2 linked regions of the Homo sapiens genome follow. The protein of the gene in region 2 binds, or shares a complex with, the protein of the main gene of each other region. Links are inferred from orthologs where the notes say so. Each region holds a gene or a part of one and is shown on either strand. Other genes may lie near its edges.

The links.
Region 1: the proteins of GLB1 (region 2) and CTSA are in contact, whole or in part, in a cryo-EM structure (PDB 7KDV), measured with the Mus musculus proteins. The link is inferred for Homo sapiens from one-to-one orthologs. Residues at the interface, in NP_033882.1 of Mus musculus: Tyr198, Asp199, Arg202, His206, Leu229, Thr233, Leu234, Gln235, Asp236, Leu237, Lys258, Phe259, Glu260; in NP_001033581.1 of Mus musculus: Glu29, Asp31, Ala37, Lys38, Gln39, Pro40, Ser41, Phe42, Arg43, Tyr107.

What each region holds. Positions count from the first base shown.
Region 1 is NC_000020.11:45,886,595-45,894,334, reverse strand, and holds the start of CTSA (lysosomal protective protein isoform b preproprotein), read right to left. Parts: upstream 3,001-7,740; 5' UTR 2,956-3,000; exon of another isoform or gene 2,910-2,955; intron 2,767-2,909; coding exon 2,573-2,766; intron 2,420-2,572; coding exon 2,308-2,419; intron 2,063-2,307; coding exon 2,012-2,062; intron 1,938-2,011; coding exon 1,851-1,937; intron 1,611-1,850; coding exon 1,455-1,610; exon of another isoform or gene 1,448-1,454; intron 1,116-1,447; coding exon 1,024-1,115; intron 348-1,023; coding exon 263-347; intron 1-262. Other genes in the region: NEURL2 (neuralized-like protein 2), read left to right, coding at 3,344-4,085, 5,462-5,577; SPATA25 (spermatogenesis-associated protein 25), read left to right, coding at 6,745-6,799, 7,190-7,740. UniProt on the Homo sapiens protein: Protective protein appears to be essential for both the activity of beta-galactosidase and neuraminidase, it associates with these enzymes and exerts a protective function necessary for their stability and activity.
Region 2 is NC_000003.12:33,094,115-33,101,525, reverse strand, and holds the start of GLB1 (beta-galactosidase isoform a preproprotein), read left to right. Parts: upstream 1-4,379; 5' UTR 4,380-4,440; coding exon 4,441-4,515; exon of another isoform or gene 4,516-4,807; intron 4,808-7,222; exon of another isoform or gene 7,223-7,330; coding exon of another isoform or gene 7,331-7,411. Other genes in the region: TMPPE (transmembrane protein with metallophosphoesterase domain), read left to right, coding at 7,331-7,411.

The DNA.
Region 1 (7,740 bases), on a different chromosome or scaffold from region 2:
TTCAGCACAGTGCCTGCCACGTTGCAGGTGTTTGATAAATGTGAAGAAGTCCTTTCTCCTCACGGAGGTTATGGGATTTGCCACCATAGGAGGTGGTGGTGGGAATACACACTTAGACACATGTCCCAGAGAACACTAAATTGCTTAAAGGTGCAAGAAAGCAATGAGGGACGGAGAACAAGGAGTCCCCAAGGAGGGAATGTGGTCCTGTTCTCAGGATTAGGGATGGGAGAGCTCATGCAAAGTGATGGCAGAACCTCACATTGGTCACGCATTCCAGGTCTTTGTTGTCATAGAAGTTACACTTGTTTTGAGAGCAGCAGTGGGTCTGGAGAGAAGACCAAAGCCTGTAGGAGATGAGAGTGAAAAGCGCATCAGCTGCTGGTGGGAAGAGGAAGGCAGAGGAGGCGAGCATACCCCCCACCTCCCACCAACCTCCCTGACCCTAGGAGACTGGGAAAGATATCACAGGGTGTGGTCTGTATGTCATCTAAGCTAGCTCCCAAAGAGGTGCCCCAGGGTCATACAGACAGGCCTCCTTAGTTCCTTTAAAATCTGATTTCTGGCTGGGCGCTGTAGCTCATGCCTGTAATCCCAGCACTTTGGGAAGATCATTTGAGGCCAGGAGTTCAAGTCCAGCCTGGCCAACACAGCAAAACCCCATCTCTACTAAAAATACAAAAAATTAGGCAGGTGTGGTGGTACGCGCCTGTAGTCCCAGCTGCCTGGGAGTCTGAGGCATGAGAATTGCTTGAACCTGGGAGGTGGAGGTTGCAGTGAGCTAAGATCGTGCCACTGCACTCCAGCCTGGGTGACAAAGTAAGAATCTGTCTCAAAAAAAAAAAAAAGAAAGAAAGAAAAACTGATCTCTATTCTTTGGCCTTTCAGCACTAGGTTCTTTCTGCAACCCACCTGCTGCTCATAAACCTGGGCTGGGCCTGTCATATCATGTGCCTGGAGGACAGACCTGAGATCATGTGACCTGCCTCACCCCAGAGATTGCCCAACTGCCCTATCCCATACCTGTTCCCCAGAAGGCCATGGTAGTAGGCAAAGTAGACCAGGGAGTTGTCATTCTGCTCATAGGAGGAGAGTCCATTGCCCACAGCCAGCCCCTGTGAAACACCCAGGGTGCTCAGCTCATGTGGAGGGCAAAAAGGAAGAGCCTCCCTCACCCTACCACCCAGACCTTCAGCAATCCGGAAGCTGAAACCCAGGGTGGTTTATGTAGGCCGGTGGGTATGAGAGGCCACTCAATGCAAAACACAGAGCTGGCAGCCTGACAGGTGAGTTTCCTGTGTGGGAGGCACACAGACAGACCTAGGGCAGCCGGTGGTGGGGAGGTTATGCAGGAAGCTGGGTTGGATGGGGACATTGACCAGTCAGTCTGACCTTGCTAACTGTAAGGCCACAGCCTCAAGCTACCTCCCTTCCCTCCTGCAGCTACCCTGCACCTGAAGGTTCATGCTGGGATCCTGCATGACCAGCACGGCCAGGGTGGGGATGTAGATGCCAGCATAGCTCTCCCCGGTCAGGAAAAGTTTGTTGTTCTTGTACTCCGGAAAGAGGCGGAAGAAATCTTGAAGGGCCTCAAAATTGCTCTGGGCGACCTGGGGATGGCAGAGCAAGACAGAGGGAATCAGGAAGCTTTGGTATTTGAACTGGAAAGAACTTCAGAGATAATGACATTAACCCACCCTATTTGTGCAAGAGGAAGTGACTGGCCACCATACCACAATAGCATATGACAGAGCGAAAAGTAGACTCCAAGGCCATGCTCTCTCTCCCAGCATCATGCCATGGATGGAGGACCGGGGAGCCTGGGGCAGATGGGCAGGCACCAGACTCACCTCAGTGTCATTAGTTGCATAAAACTTGTCATCGGAGTAGGAGAAGCCCACCCCAGCTGGGGACTCCAGGTATAACACATTGGCAATCTAGAGGGGAGGGAAAAATTAGCTAAATGCCACCCCATCCAAGTGCCCAGACACACCCACAGCTCCAGCTATACCAGATTCCAAGAATAGGGGTTGTACTCCAGGGTGACACCATCTGGCTGGACCTGAGGAGGAAAGAGATGGCTGAGTAAGTCCCAAGGGCCAGCTGGGTGGAGGGAAAGGGCCACCATGAGAGGCACTTTACATGTGGGTAAAACCTCTGAGAGGTACAGGCAGCAAAGCCAATGGCATAGAGGAAAATCCCGAGGCTTAGAAGGAAGGAAACTTTTTGGAAAATCACAAAGCCCCTCTCTCGCTTTCCCCAGCCTTTTACTTTGGGAACTGTGCTTTCCCCCTGCTGTCCACTCACCAGGAAGGGGCCATGCTCTGTGAGGAGCCCATCTAGTGAGCTGCAGCCGGGACCCCCATTGAGCCAAAGCACCACAGGGCTGTTCTCGGGATCCTTCTGGGACTCCACAAACCTGGGAGGGGGGTCAGGGCAGGGTTGGCGCAGTTGGAGGGGCCCTTTCCAGCCCTCCCGGCTCCCAGGCATCCTCAGGGGTCTGCAGAACTACCCCCCATCCCTCATCCGTCATCTCTTCTCCCAATCCCGCCCAGAAGGCAGGGCGGCAGACCAGTAGTGGAGGTGCTTGGAGCCGGAGCCTTTGAGGTAGCCGGAGTACTGGCGGAAAGACGGCTGCTTGGCCAGCCCGGGGAGGCGCTGGATCTCGTCCTGGTCGGGGGCTGCCTCGCCTCGGGACGCCCAGGACACTAGCAGCAGCAGCAGCAGCAGCAGCAGGAACAGCGGCGGCGGCGCGGCTCGGATCATCTACGGGAGGCAGCAGAGGGGCTGTTGACTCGCTCCTCAGCGCTTCCGTGCAGCAGCCCCCGGGGAGTTGCTGGCGGCGCCTCCGCGAGGGAAGCCCCGGCCCCAGCGCCAGCTCCCACCCGCGAGCCTCCTCTGCCGCGCACCGATCCCGGGCTCGGGGATCCCCTCCAGCCTCCGGTGCCAGCTCACCTCTGCTCCCCCGCGTCCTTGCTCTCCAGGAGGCGCCCGGGGACTGGAAGTCATGTGTACGAGTCACGTGAACTCCGGCGCCACGTGACAGTCTTCCTCCCGCCCCTTCTTTGGTCCCTACGGACCTGGGGGGCGGTGGCGGTCAATGCCGGGTCAAGGTCCGCGGGCCTCGCAGATCGTAGCCCGGGCGCACGCGATCAGATGATCCTGTTGTGGACGGCTAAGTTGTAGGCGGGATGGCTGAGAAAGCGGCGCTAGGACCCCCGGGCAGAGGCTCGGGGAAGGGAGTCAGGGGGGAAATGCCTTACAAGGTCGCCTTGCGGTCACCATCATTGCCCGCCGCCCAAAATAGCCCCCGGCGCCAGCTGGCCTGCCCTATGGCCGAGAGATGGCTGCTGCCTCCGAGCCCGTGGATTCGGGTGCACTCTGGGGACTCGAGCGCCCGGAGCCCCCTCCCACCCGCTTCCATCGGGTGCACGGTGCCAACATCCGCGTGGACCCCTCTGGGACGCGGGCCACACGCGTGGAGAGCTTCGCCCACGGCGTGTGCTTCAGCCGCGAGCCGCTGGCCCCGGGCCAGGTCTTCCTGGTCGAGATCGAGGAGAAAGAGCTGGGCTGGTGCGGACATCTGCGTCTCGGTCTGACCGCGCTGGACCCCGCCAGTCTGGCCCCCGTTCCCGAGTTTTCTCTGCCCGATCTGGTCAACCTGGGCCACACCTGGGTCTTCGCCATCACGCGCCACCACAACCGCGTGCCCCGGGAGGGCCGCCCGGAGGCGGAGGCAGCGGCCCCCAGCCGACCTCCAACCCTCCTCGTGGAACCATATCTGCGCATTGAGCAGTTTCGCATTCCCCGGGACCGCCTGGTGGGCCGCAGCCGGCCAGGGCTCTACAGCCATCTCTTGGACCAGCTCTATGAGCTGAACGTGCTGCCTCCGACCGCGCGCCGTAGCCGCCTGGGTGTCCTCTTTTGCCCGCGCCCCGATGGCACGGCCGACATGCACATCATCATCAACGGCGAGGACATGGGCCCGAGCGCCCGGGGACTGCCAGCTGCGCAGCCCCTCTACGCGGTGGTGGACGTGTTTGCTTCCACAAAGAGCGTGCGCCTTGTCCAGCTCGAGTATGGCTGTAGGTATCCCTGGGCAGCGACCCCTCCTGGCTCAGTGTGGGGACTGGAATCTACTAGGGCTCCGTAGCCCATGTGCTAGGCCTTCGTCTGTCCGGCACTAGTTTAAGAGTGGGAGAATCTAGCTTCAAATTGCACCTCTGCTTGTGATCTTGCACAAGCCTCTACATGGTTTTGGGCCTTGGTACCTATCTTGGTTGATTGATTAAGATGCCCTACAAGTTCCCTTTTAGTTTTGATAGTGTTTCCTGTATTCACCTAGGGCAGGGATTCTAAACCAATTTTAGATATTAGGGGCCTCTTTGAGAATTGTTTGCCCTTTTCTTAGAAACATGCTTGGCCGGGCACAGTGGCTCACACCTGTAATCCCAGCACTTTGGGAGGGGGAGGCAGGCAGATCACTTGAGGCCAGGAGTTCGAGACCAGCCTGGCCAACATGGTGAAAGCCTGTCTCTACTAAAAATACAAAAAGTAGCTGGGTGTGGTGGCATGTGCCAATAATCCCAGCTATTCAGAAGGCTGAGGCAGGAGAGTCACTTGAACCCGAGAGGTGGAGGTTGCAATGAGCCGAGATCTCACCAGTGCACTCCAGCCTAGGCAACAGAGCAAGACTCTGAAAAAAAAAAGAAAGAGAGAGAGAGAGGAAGAGAGAGAAAGCAAGCAAGCAAGCAAGCTAGCTAGCTCAAGCCTGGGCAACAAAGTGAGACCCCATCTGTACAAAAAATTAAATAATTATCTGGGCATGGTGGTGCATGCCTGTAGTCCCAGCTATTTGGGAGGCTAAGGCAGGAGGATCGCTTGAGCCCAAGAATTGAAGGCTGCAGTTCACTGAGCACTGCACTTCAGCCTGGGTGACAGAGCAAGACCCTCTCTCTTTAAATAAAAAAAAAAAAAGAAAGAAAAGAAAGAAACATGCTCATAGACTTGGGCATATTGGCTATTGGCTTCGAGGCATAACAAACCCCAGACTGAGAGCTTCTTAATGCTGAGTATGATTCATTATAGCCCTGGTAAGCATTGCAGTTATACCTCTCATCACATTTCATGAACTCAATGCACCAGAACCCTCTTTGTGCCAGGCCTGTGCTGGAGGCTTCAGTTGCACAGGCAAATCAGACACTACCCCTGCCCCCAGAAGCTGCTAAGTGAATGGGGAAGGGATTGTGCTAAGTGTTATGATATAAACAGGGCTGCAGCTTTGTGGCAGCTCTCAGGAAGAGGTGCTTCTCTCAGCCCCATGAAGCAGGCTGGGCCCAGAGAGCAGTAAGGACTTGCCCACATTTAATGACAAAGTGGGGACCATGACCTAGACCTTCTGGATCTTGGCCTCAGACCCACCCTCCAGTTCAGTTTGCCTTTCACAGTCTTCTTCCCACAGTGCCATCCCTGCAGACTCTGTGCCGCCTAGTGATACAAAGGAGCATGGTGCACCGGCTGGCCATTGATGGGCTCCACCTGCCCAAAGAACTTAAGGATTTCTGCAAGTATGAGTGAAGACCCACAGTGCACCAGAGCACAGCTGCATCCTGGAGCCCCAGACCTGTGGCTGGCTGGTCCGAAGTTGGCCACATTGCTGCCAGCCAAGACCAGAAATAAACAGCCGATGCTGACATCTTGATCACTGGAAGGTCTCCTTGCCCCTACAGCCTATGAGAGTCACTTCGTTTAGAATCACTGCAGGTCAGCAGGTCGGAGCAAAAGAGCAGGGGTCCCTAGGCTGGCTGCTTGTTAGAGTCATCTTAGGATATGTAAAGAGTGCTGGTGTCCCACATCCCATCCCTAGGGATTCGTATTTGATTTGTTGGGAAATTAGGCCTAGACATTGTGTTTTGTAAAAGCTTCTCAAGAGATTCTCATGTACAGCCAGGGTTGAGAAGTATGTCCCTAGAAAAAAGGTTCCAACTTTGTCATATATTATAATCACTTGAGGAATTTTGAAAAATACCAATACCTGGCCTGTAATCCCAGCACTTTGGGAGGCCGAGGTGGGCAGATCACTTGAGGTCAGGAGTTTGAGACCAGCCTGGCCAACATGGTGAAACCCTGTCTCTACTAAAAATACAAAAGTTAGCCAGGTGTGGTGGCAGGTTCCTGTAGTCCCAGCTACTCGGGAGGCTGAGGCAGGAGAATTGCATGAACCCAGGAGGCAGAGGTTGCAGTGAGCTGAGGTCTTGCTCCTGCACTCCAGCCTTCCAGTCATGGCGACAAAGTGAGACTCTGTCTCAAAAAAAGAAAAAGAAAAATACCAATACTGGGTCTGACCCGAAGTCTTACTCTACAAGGCACGAAGCACTTGGCTCCTGTGTTTCCATCTCTGGTCATCTGCTTCCATACAAATGATCTCATTTCATCCTCAAAACTCCTAATGAGGTAGTGGGCAGTCATCAGACACACTTTACAGATAAGGATATCAAGGAACAAAACTATCTGGGTGACTCGTTCAAGGTTAGGGCAAGAACCTAGAACACCCAGCTCCTGGTCTGGTGCTCTTTTAACCTCATCCTATTGTCATGTCCAGGTTCTAGAATGAATAGGTCAACGCTGTAAAGTGGATTCCAAGTGTGAAGGGGAGGGTCTATGAGGTGACATTCTAGAAGGGTGAAGAAGGGAGGACAGGCGGCAGATCACTATTCCCTCACAAACCGGGGCTTTGGGGAAGCCATGTCCTACTTCAGGACTCCACAAACTCATCCAGGTCCTCTGCCTTCCGGCCAAGGTGAGCGGGGGGCACCTGCAATTGGAGGGAGTGCGGCAGCTTCCCCTGAGAAGTTGCTTTCTGGCTCTGGGGAGGTGGCGGTTCTGCTGGGCATTTGGGGGCTGGCCCTAGAATCAATTCTTTTAGAAGAAAAGCCATTCCAAACATCCTTGCCAATCAATAACTACCCGCTTGCTCACTATTCATTAATTCAACAAACGCTTCTCCATCACCTACTCCGTGTTGGGGACTGGGAGTGTGGATATGAGTAACACCTAGTTCCCAACCTCTAGACAGTCCGCTGGGGCTGGTCTTAGTTACGCCCCCAAGCTCTGCTCCCATGCCCTGCCCCTCAGGGCCCCCTCCTCAAAGAACTGAGAATAACGTTCCATTTCATTCCTGTCTCTGCAGGTGGGGCTGCTTCTCCAGGCTTGTCCCTTGGCCTCTGTAGTCCTGTAGAGCCAGTGGTGGTGGCCTCTGGTGGAACAGGCCCACTGAGCCAGAAAGCTGAGCAGGTGGCACCTGCTGCCCAGGCCTGGGGCCCAGCCCTGGCAATGCCACAAGCCAGGGGCTGCCCTGGGGGGACTAGCTGGGAGACACTACGGAAGGAATACAGCCGAAACTGCCACAAATTCCCGCATGTGAGGCAGCTGGAGAGCTTGGGCTGGGACAATGGCTACTCCAGAAGCAGAGCCCCTGACCTGGGTGGCCCCAGCAGGCCTAGGCCCCTGATGCTGTGTGGGCTGTCACCACGGGTTCTACCGGTACCCTCTGAGGCAGTGGGGAAGGAGGCCAGCTCCCAGCCTGATATCTGCATCCTCACCCTCGCCATGATGATCGCTGGCATCCCCACCGTGCCCGTCCCAGGAGTTCGGGAAGAGGACCTGATCTGGGCCGCTCAAGCTTTCATGATGGCCCATCCGGAGCCAGAGGGTGCTGTGGAGGGGGCGCGGTGGGAGCAG
Region 2 (7,411 bases):
AAAAATAAATTATTAGAAAAATAGGCCGGGTGTGGTGGCTCACACCTGTTATCCTAGCACTTTGGGAGGCTGAGGGGGGTGGATTGCCTGAGCTCAGGAGCTCAAGACCAGCCTGGGCAACATGGTGAAACCCCATCTCTACTAAAATACGAAAAAATCAGCCTGGCATGGTGGTGTGAGCCTGTAGTCCCAGCTACTCAGGAGGCCGAGGTTTAATTGCGAGAACCCAGGAGGTGGAGGTTGCAGTGAGCCAAGATCATGCCACTGCGCTCCAGTCTGGGCGACAAAGTGAAACTCTGTCTCAAAAACAAACAAACAAAAACTACTAGAGGCCAGGCGTGGTGGCTCACGCCTGTAATCCCAGCACTTTGGGAGGCCGAGGCAGGTGGATCACCTGAGGTCAGGAGTTTGAGACCAGCCTGACCAACATGGAGAAACCCCATCTCTACTGAAAATATAAAAGTAGCGGGGCATGGTGGCACATGCCTGTAATCCCAGCTACTCAGGAGGCTGAGGCAGGAGAATCGCTTGAATCCAGGAGGCAGAGGTTGCAGTGAGCCAAGATCGTGCCATTGCACTCCAGCCTGGGCAATAAAAGCGAAACTCTGTCTAAAAAAATAAAAATAAAACATTACTAGAACAATGAAATAAAAATAGATGCGTAATGATTTTGTTCATTATTAGATTCAACAGATAGACTTACTTTCTCAAATTGCTGCAAGTTTCTAAGTGCCTAGGCTGAATTTCTGTACTTATTGCACAGCACTGGTCTAAGGATCAGACTCTGAGAAGTATTAGTCTATATTAGAGCATGTACCATGTTTAGAGATGAGTGCCTGCAGGGTGACAGCCTTCTCATGGTCCCTTCATATTCTCCAGTATGCAGGGGGCTTTGCATCCAGCACACTCTGTCTGTGCATTTAAATGGGAACCAAACAGTACACTATGAGCAGAAGCATAGCCTTGTGAAAATAACTCAGGCCCTAACGTCAGGCAATGTAACTTTAGAGACTCTACTGCTCCCCAGCTCTGTGGCTACTGGCAAGTCATTTAACTCCTCTGGGTCTCAGCTTTCTCATCTGTGAAATGTGGATAAGAGCATGCAGCTCGGATTGGGAGGAATAGTGACACATACTGGTAAAGCATTCAGCACAACAATGGCTATTACTACTATTGCCATTTCAACTACAAACATAGTCAAATACTAAAAATCTCAGAAACAATCTACAATCTATATTCCTTTGGCAAGCTTATACTGTAAAGGGCTAGAACATAAATATATTCAGTTTTGTAGGTCCTAAGATCTGTGTTGCAACTACTCCATTCTACCGTTGTAGCGTGAAAGCAACCATATGCAATATGCAGAGGATTATAGGTGGCTGTGTTCTAAGAAAACTATTTATGTGTAATCTTGGCACTTTGGCAGCCAAAGTGGGCAGATTACTTGAGGCCAGGAGTTCAAGACCAACCCTGGCAACAAGGCAAGATCTTGTCTTTAGAAAAAAAAAAATTATTCAGGCATGGTGGCACTCGCCTGTAGTCCCAGCTACTTAGCTACTCAGGAGGCCGACATGGGACGACTGCTTCAGCTCAGGAGTTCAAGGCTGCTGTGAGCTATGATTGCACCACTGCACTCCAGCCTGGGTGACAGAGCAAGACTGTGTCTAAAAAAACAAAACAAAACAAAAAAAACAAAAACCAACCCCACAAAACTTTATTTATGGACACTGACACAGGAAACTTACAACATTTTCAAATGTCATAAAATATTATTCTTTTGATTTTTTTTCATTCATTTAAAAATGTAAAAACCATTTTTAGGTGGCAGGCCATAGAAAAACTGGCAGCAAATTGTGCCGATTCTTAGTAAAAAGAATTTTAAAAAGAAAAAGAAAAACAGGCAGCAGGCCAGATTTGATCCTCTGCCCTTAGTTTGCCAACTCCTGCTCTAAACCCTTTCTACCTCAGTTCAGTTAAAAATACCTATTGCATATGATAACCCTGAGTGTACAGAGTAGGAAAGAAGGTAGAAGAAGTTGAATCTGCCATGTGTTAAGGATTTTTGTTTTGTTTTGTTTTTAAACTTCGTTCTGCAATAATTTCAGGCTTAGAAACAAAAAGTTGAAAAAAAGAGTAAAAATAATTCCTTCATTGATTTTCCAAATGTTAACATTTTACCACATTTGCTTTTCTTTCTCACGTTCTTTTCATGCCTGGAATACCATTTCTCTCCCTCTCTCTCTCTCTCTTTCTCTCTCTCTCCATTTTTTTTTGTGAACTGTTTGAGAATCAGTTGCAAAGATGATGCCCTTTTGTTTCCTAAAAAACAAGGATGTTCTTTTATATAACCATTACCAAAATTACCATTACCGTTACCCAAATCAATACACTAATACAAAACTATTATTTAATATTTAGACCGTGTACCATTATCAAAATCAGAAAGTTAACATTGATGCGGCCGGGCACAGTGGCTCATGCCTGTAATCCCAGCACTTTGGGAGGCCGAGGTGGGCAAATCACTTGAGGTCAAGAGCTCCAGACCAGCCTGGCTAACATGGTGATACCCCATCTCTACTAAAAATACAAAAATTAGCCAAGCCTAGTGGTGGGTGCCTGTAATCCCAGCTACTTTGGAGGCTGAGGTGGGAGAATCACTTGAACCTGGGAGGCGGAGGTTGCAGTGAGCCGAGATTGTGCCACTGCACTCCAGCCTGGGTGACAGAGTGAGACTCTGTCCCCCCACCCCCCCAAAAAGGAAATTAACATTGATGCATGGTACTAATCTAACCTACAAGTCTAATTCTGATTTCATCAACTGTCCCACTAACATCCTGTATATACCAAGCTTCTTATCGTCATCATCTCTGGTAATTTCCCCAATTATCCAGTGAATTTGATATTATTAGCCCTGCTTTACCAACAAAGAAACTAAGCTCAGAGAGGTTAAGTAATTTGCCCACAGTTACACAGACAGTAAGTGGCAGAGCTGGAATTCCAACTCAAGTGTACTTCCTCCAGAGCCCTTGTTCTTTAATACTGAACTAGAATTGCAGAGCTTGGAAAGGACTTCACAGTGCAAGGACACGGAATTGGTACTACAGGCATGAAAAGAAGCCAGGCACGGTGGCTCATGTCTGTAATTCCAGCATTTTGGGAGTTCCAGGCAGGTAGATTGCTTGATCCCAGAACTTCAAGACCTGCCTGGGAAACGTGGTGAGACCCTGTCTCTACAAAAAATACAAAAATTAGCCGGGTGTGGTGGCGCACGCCTGTAGTCCCAGCCACTTGGTAGGCTGAGACGGGAGAATTGCTTGAGCCCAGGAGGCCAAAGCTGCAGTAAGCCGTGATTGCGCCCCACTCCAGCCTGGGTGACAGAGTGAGACCCTGTCTCAAAAAACACAAAAACAAAACAAAAAAACAACCCCCCAAACCAAAAAACAAAAACCTAAGAAAAGCCAGTAACTGATACTTTCTCAATCTCTCAATGAAATGTCCTTTCTGATACTTTCTCAATCTCTCAAGGACATGTCCGGTAGGAAAGGAGAAAGGAGTGAACAAATAGAATTTTGGCTACTTTGTTATACAATGTAAAAAGGCTTTTTGGAACACCAAGGCATAAACTAAGGTTATTTTAAAAAAGAAAATTTTTTTTTGATACGGAATTTCGCTCTTATTGCCCAGGCTGGAGCGCAATGGCTCGATCTCGGTTTACTGCAACCTCCACCTCCCGGGTTCAAGCGATTCTCCTGTCTCAGCCTCCTCAGTAGCTGGGATTACAGGCGCCTGCCACCACGCCCGGCTAATTTTTGTATTTTTAGTAGAGACGGGGTTTCATCATACTGGTCAGGCTGGTCTGGAACTCCTGACCTCAGGCGATCCGCCCGCCTCGGCCTCCCAAAGTGCTGGGATTACAGGCGTGAGCAGGATTTTCATTCTAACAAGTTCCAGGTGAGTTGATACAGTGGCTCCAGGGACCGACCACATTTTGCTAACCCCCGGCTTAGAGTTATTCAAAGAGCCCGTATATGAGACGCGGATTCCATCTAGGGCGTTTAGGTTTAATGATTAACAATTTCCCTCTTCTGCTCTCTCAAGGCAGCCAGGGAACAGGGAGACCATGATTCATGTCCAATCCCCGAGGCGCGTTATCAAGCTGCTGAAAGCAGGCCCTCCGGACTGCAGTTCCAAAGGGTCCCTTCCCAGGGAAGACGCCTGCAAAACCCAGATAGTACTATCCTGGAGTCACGCGGCGGCGCGCAGCCTCCTAGCCGCCCCCACCCGCCCGGCTCGGCCACAGCGGGGCGGGGCGCGGGGCTGAGCAGGCGCGAGGGCTGGCTGCTGGGCCGACGAGGGGCGGTGCCAGGCCGTGGGTCCTTAGTCAAGTGACGCGAAGCGGCCGGCCTGGGCGCCGACTGCAGAGCCGGGAGGCTGGTGGTCATGCCGGGGTTCCTGGTTCGCATCCTCCCTCTGTTGCTGGTTCTGCTGCTTCTGGGCCCTACGCGCGGCTTGCGCGTAAGTCTGCGGGACCCGGGTACGGGGAGGCATTGCTAGGGGACAGGCTGGCGGGGAACCGGGCTGGGGTCGCAGCCACCCGCGGTCCCGCAGGGCGGGGAGCCTGAGCCCCGAAGTGCCCCCCAGCAGGCTCGCGGCCGGCGGAACGCAGGCAGTGGACCGGCCTTCCCGTCGGGGGCGGGCCGGGCGGGGCGCGCGTCCTTCCAGGCAGCTCGGTCGCTTGTGCGTTCCGCTCCGGCCGCCCTTTGCGCTTGGATCCACTTCCCCATCTGTAACGAGGTGTTGAGACGAGGTGCGTGTAAACATTTCCTAAGTTGGCTTTCCGGGAGGGGATTCCAAGTTGCGCGGGTTAGAGGGTGCCTCCGGCTCTGGTTTGGGGCGCCCTCGCTTTCCCAGTTGGTGCTCTGCGGAGCGCTCCGGAAGGAGAAAAATGGGGTCAGGAGAGGCCCTTGCAGTGGGAACATTGGGTTATTTCCCCTCTGGGTGCTCTCCCTCTTCGTGCATCTTGTTCCTTTCTCACCACTCCCCGTCGCCTGCCCTTTGGCTTGGGTTTTTCTTTGTATTTGTGGGACCGTTTTCCTTCGGCGTTTGGGGGTCCAGGTTGAGGGGGGGAATAGGCAGGCTGCCGGGGGATGCCATCGTTGATCGGGGCAGGGCTGGCGAGGCGAATAGGTGAGGTGCGGGGCGTGCACAGTTGGTGGGAGAGGAAGGACAGCTTCACTCGCTGCGTCCGAGCTGAGGCGACTGGCTGAGGGGCTCCAAAGCGCTGCCTGGGGAGGTTTGCATCACACCTGCGGAAAGGAGAGTGGGTAGTTGCAAGCTGCTCCTCTGCACGTTCCGCGGACCAACTTTGGTTCCTCCAGGGTGTAGGTGGGCTGAGCCTGCAGTATGCTTTAAGTAAGAGCTGGTAGCATTTGACACCGTTGACTTGTAAGTTACACCCTTTAATAACGCTTTCAATAACGTGCCTAGGGCAGAGAAAAGTGGTACATTTATCTACAACCAAGATTGAACATCTTAAGTATTTGGAAAACAGCTGCTGAAAATGTTTTCATTTTGGGAAAAAGTCAGCACAGATTATTTGCTGCTCCCTCTTCACCCCGTCTGTGGTTCCCCTACCCCAGTATGTAGACAGAGTTTTCTTGTCCAGAAGGCCCGTAGGACCTTAGGAGTCAGAGCTAGCCAGCTGTGAGAACCACTGGGGAAGGTGGAACTGGGGCACAGTTCAGGAGAACAGTGGCAGGGTAAGGGGCTAGGGGAAAGGCAGATCTTAACCAGTATCTGGGAGTGGGGGTAGGGAGAGAGAGAAGGATTTATGAACCAGGAACAGGTGGACAGGGTCAATCTGTCTGATGTGAGCTCATCAGTCTTGTGCAGCGTCATTGGGTCAGGGTGGATGCCCTGTGGCTGCCATACCTGAGGCCCACACAGGGAGGCTGGCATCACCCCAGGAATTCTCATTTCAGGTGCCTAGGTGTCCCTCTTGGGCTTCTGTGCCCACAGCTAAAGAAAGATACCAGCAGTCTAGCTTTCCATTATCTCCTTGTTTACATTTCTTTAGGGTTCACGCCATTCTCCTGCCTCAGCCTCCCGAGTAGCTGGGACTACAGGCGCCCGCCATCACACCCGACTAATTTTTTTCTTTTTTTGTATTTTTAGTAGAGACGGGGTTTCACCATGTTAGCCAGGATGGTCTCGATCTCCTGACCTCGTGACCCAGCGGTTCTCAAATTTTAACTAAATTTTAGCTGTCCTAGAAATTAAGAGAATATTCCTTTTTTTTTTTTTTTTTTTTTTTTTGAGACAGAGTCTCGCTCTTTTGCCCAGGCTGGAGTGCAGTGGCACGATCTTGGCTCACTACAACTTCCACCTCCCAGGTTCAAGTGATTCTCCTGCCTCAGCCTCCCGAGTAGCTGGGATTACATGCATCCACCACCATGCCTGGCTAATTTTTGAATTTTTAGTAGAGACAGGGTTTTACCATGTTGGCCAGGCTGGTCTTGAACTCCTGACCTCAGGTAATCTGCCTGCCTCGGCCTCCCAAAGTGCTGGAATTATAGGCGTCAGCCACTGTGCCCAGCCCTAGAGAATATTTTAAACTATTTGTTAAGAAATACTACATCATTACACGTTAATAAACAATATATATATTTGAAAAACAATAGTATTTCTCCCCAAATTTTAGGGTGAAGAGTTGCACTGTTTTACATTTCTGCAAATCTCTTTCAATGTCTCTTAATAGAAGACAGTCAAATTTTCATGTTTATTTCTGCATTAAATCTGTTGCCATATCACATGTCACATAGCCTCTGGAAGACTCCACCCCCTCAGGACAGAGTGAGAATGGAAAAGGCAGTAATGGCTTGGAATTATAATAAAAATAGTTTTGACTAATTGGACCCCTGAAGGGCTCTCTCCAGACCACACTTTGAATACCGCTGATTTGGAATGTTTTTATAAAACAAGTACATGCTTACTGTAGAGAAACTTTAAACGTATAGAACATGTGGTAAGAAAATGAAAACTGCCCATCATGTCACAATGCTGTGAGTTTCTTTTTGAATAATAAAGTATAGCTAGCAACTGACTGGTATTTGAGTAGCTTGGATTCAAGGTGGGTTGGGCAGATGTAAGTGGCCTTTGAGTTTTGAATGGGTACAAGGACACTCTAATATCCCACAAAGCTGATGCTGGTTCCTGGTTGCAGGCGGAGTTGACCTGGAAACCTCTCCTTGGCCACTGTCCTTTCTAAGGAACTCATTTCCAGAGTCCACCAGCACAGAACTGGTGGGGGAGCCTACTAGGAGCAGAGAAAATGGCCATCTTCAGGCAGCTGTCCCTAGGCGCGAAGGCCACCCTGGCTGCTGTCACTGTCTTCGTGTCCATGATCGCCTCC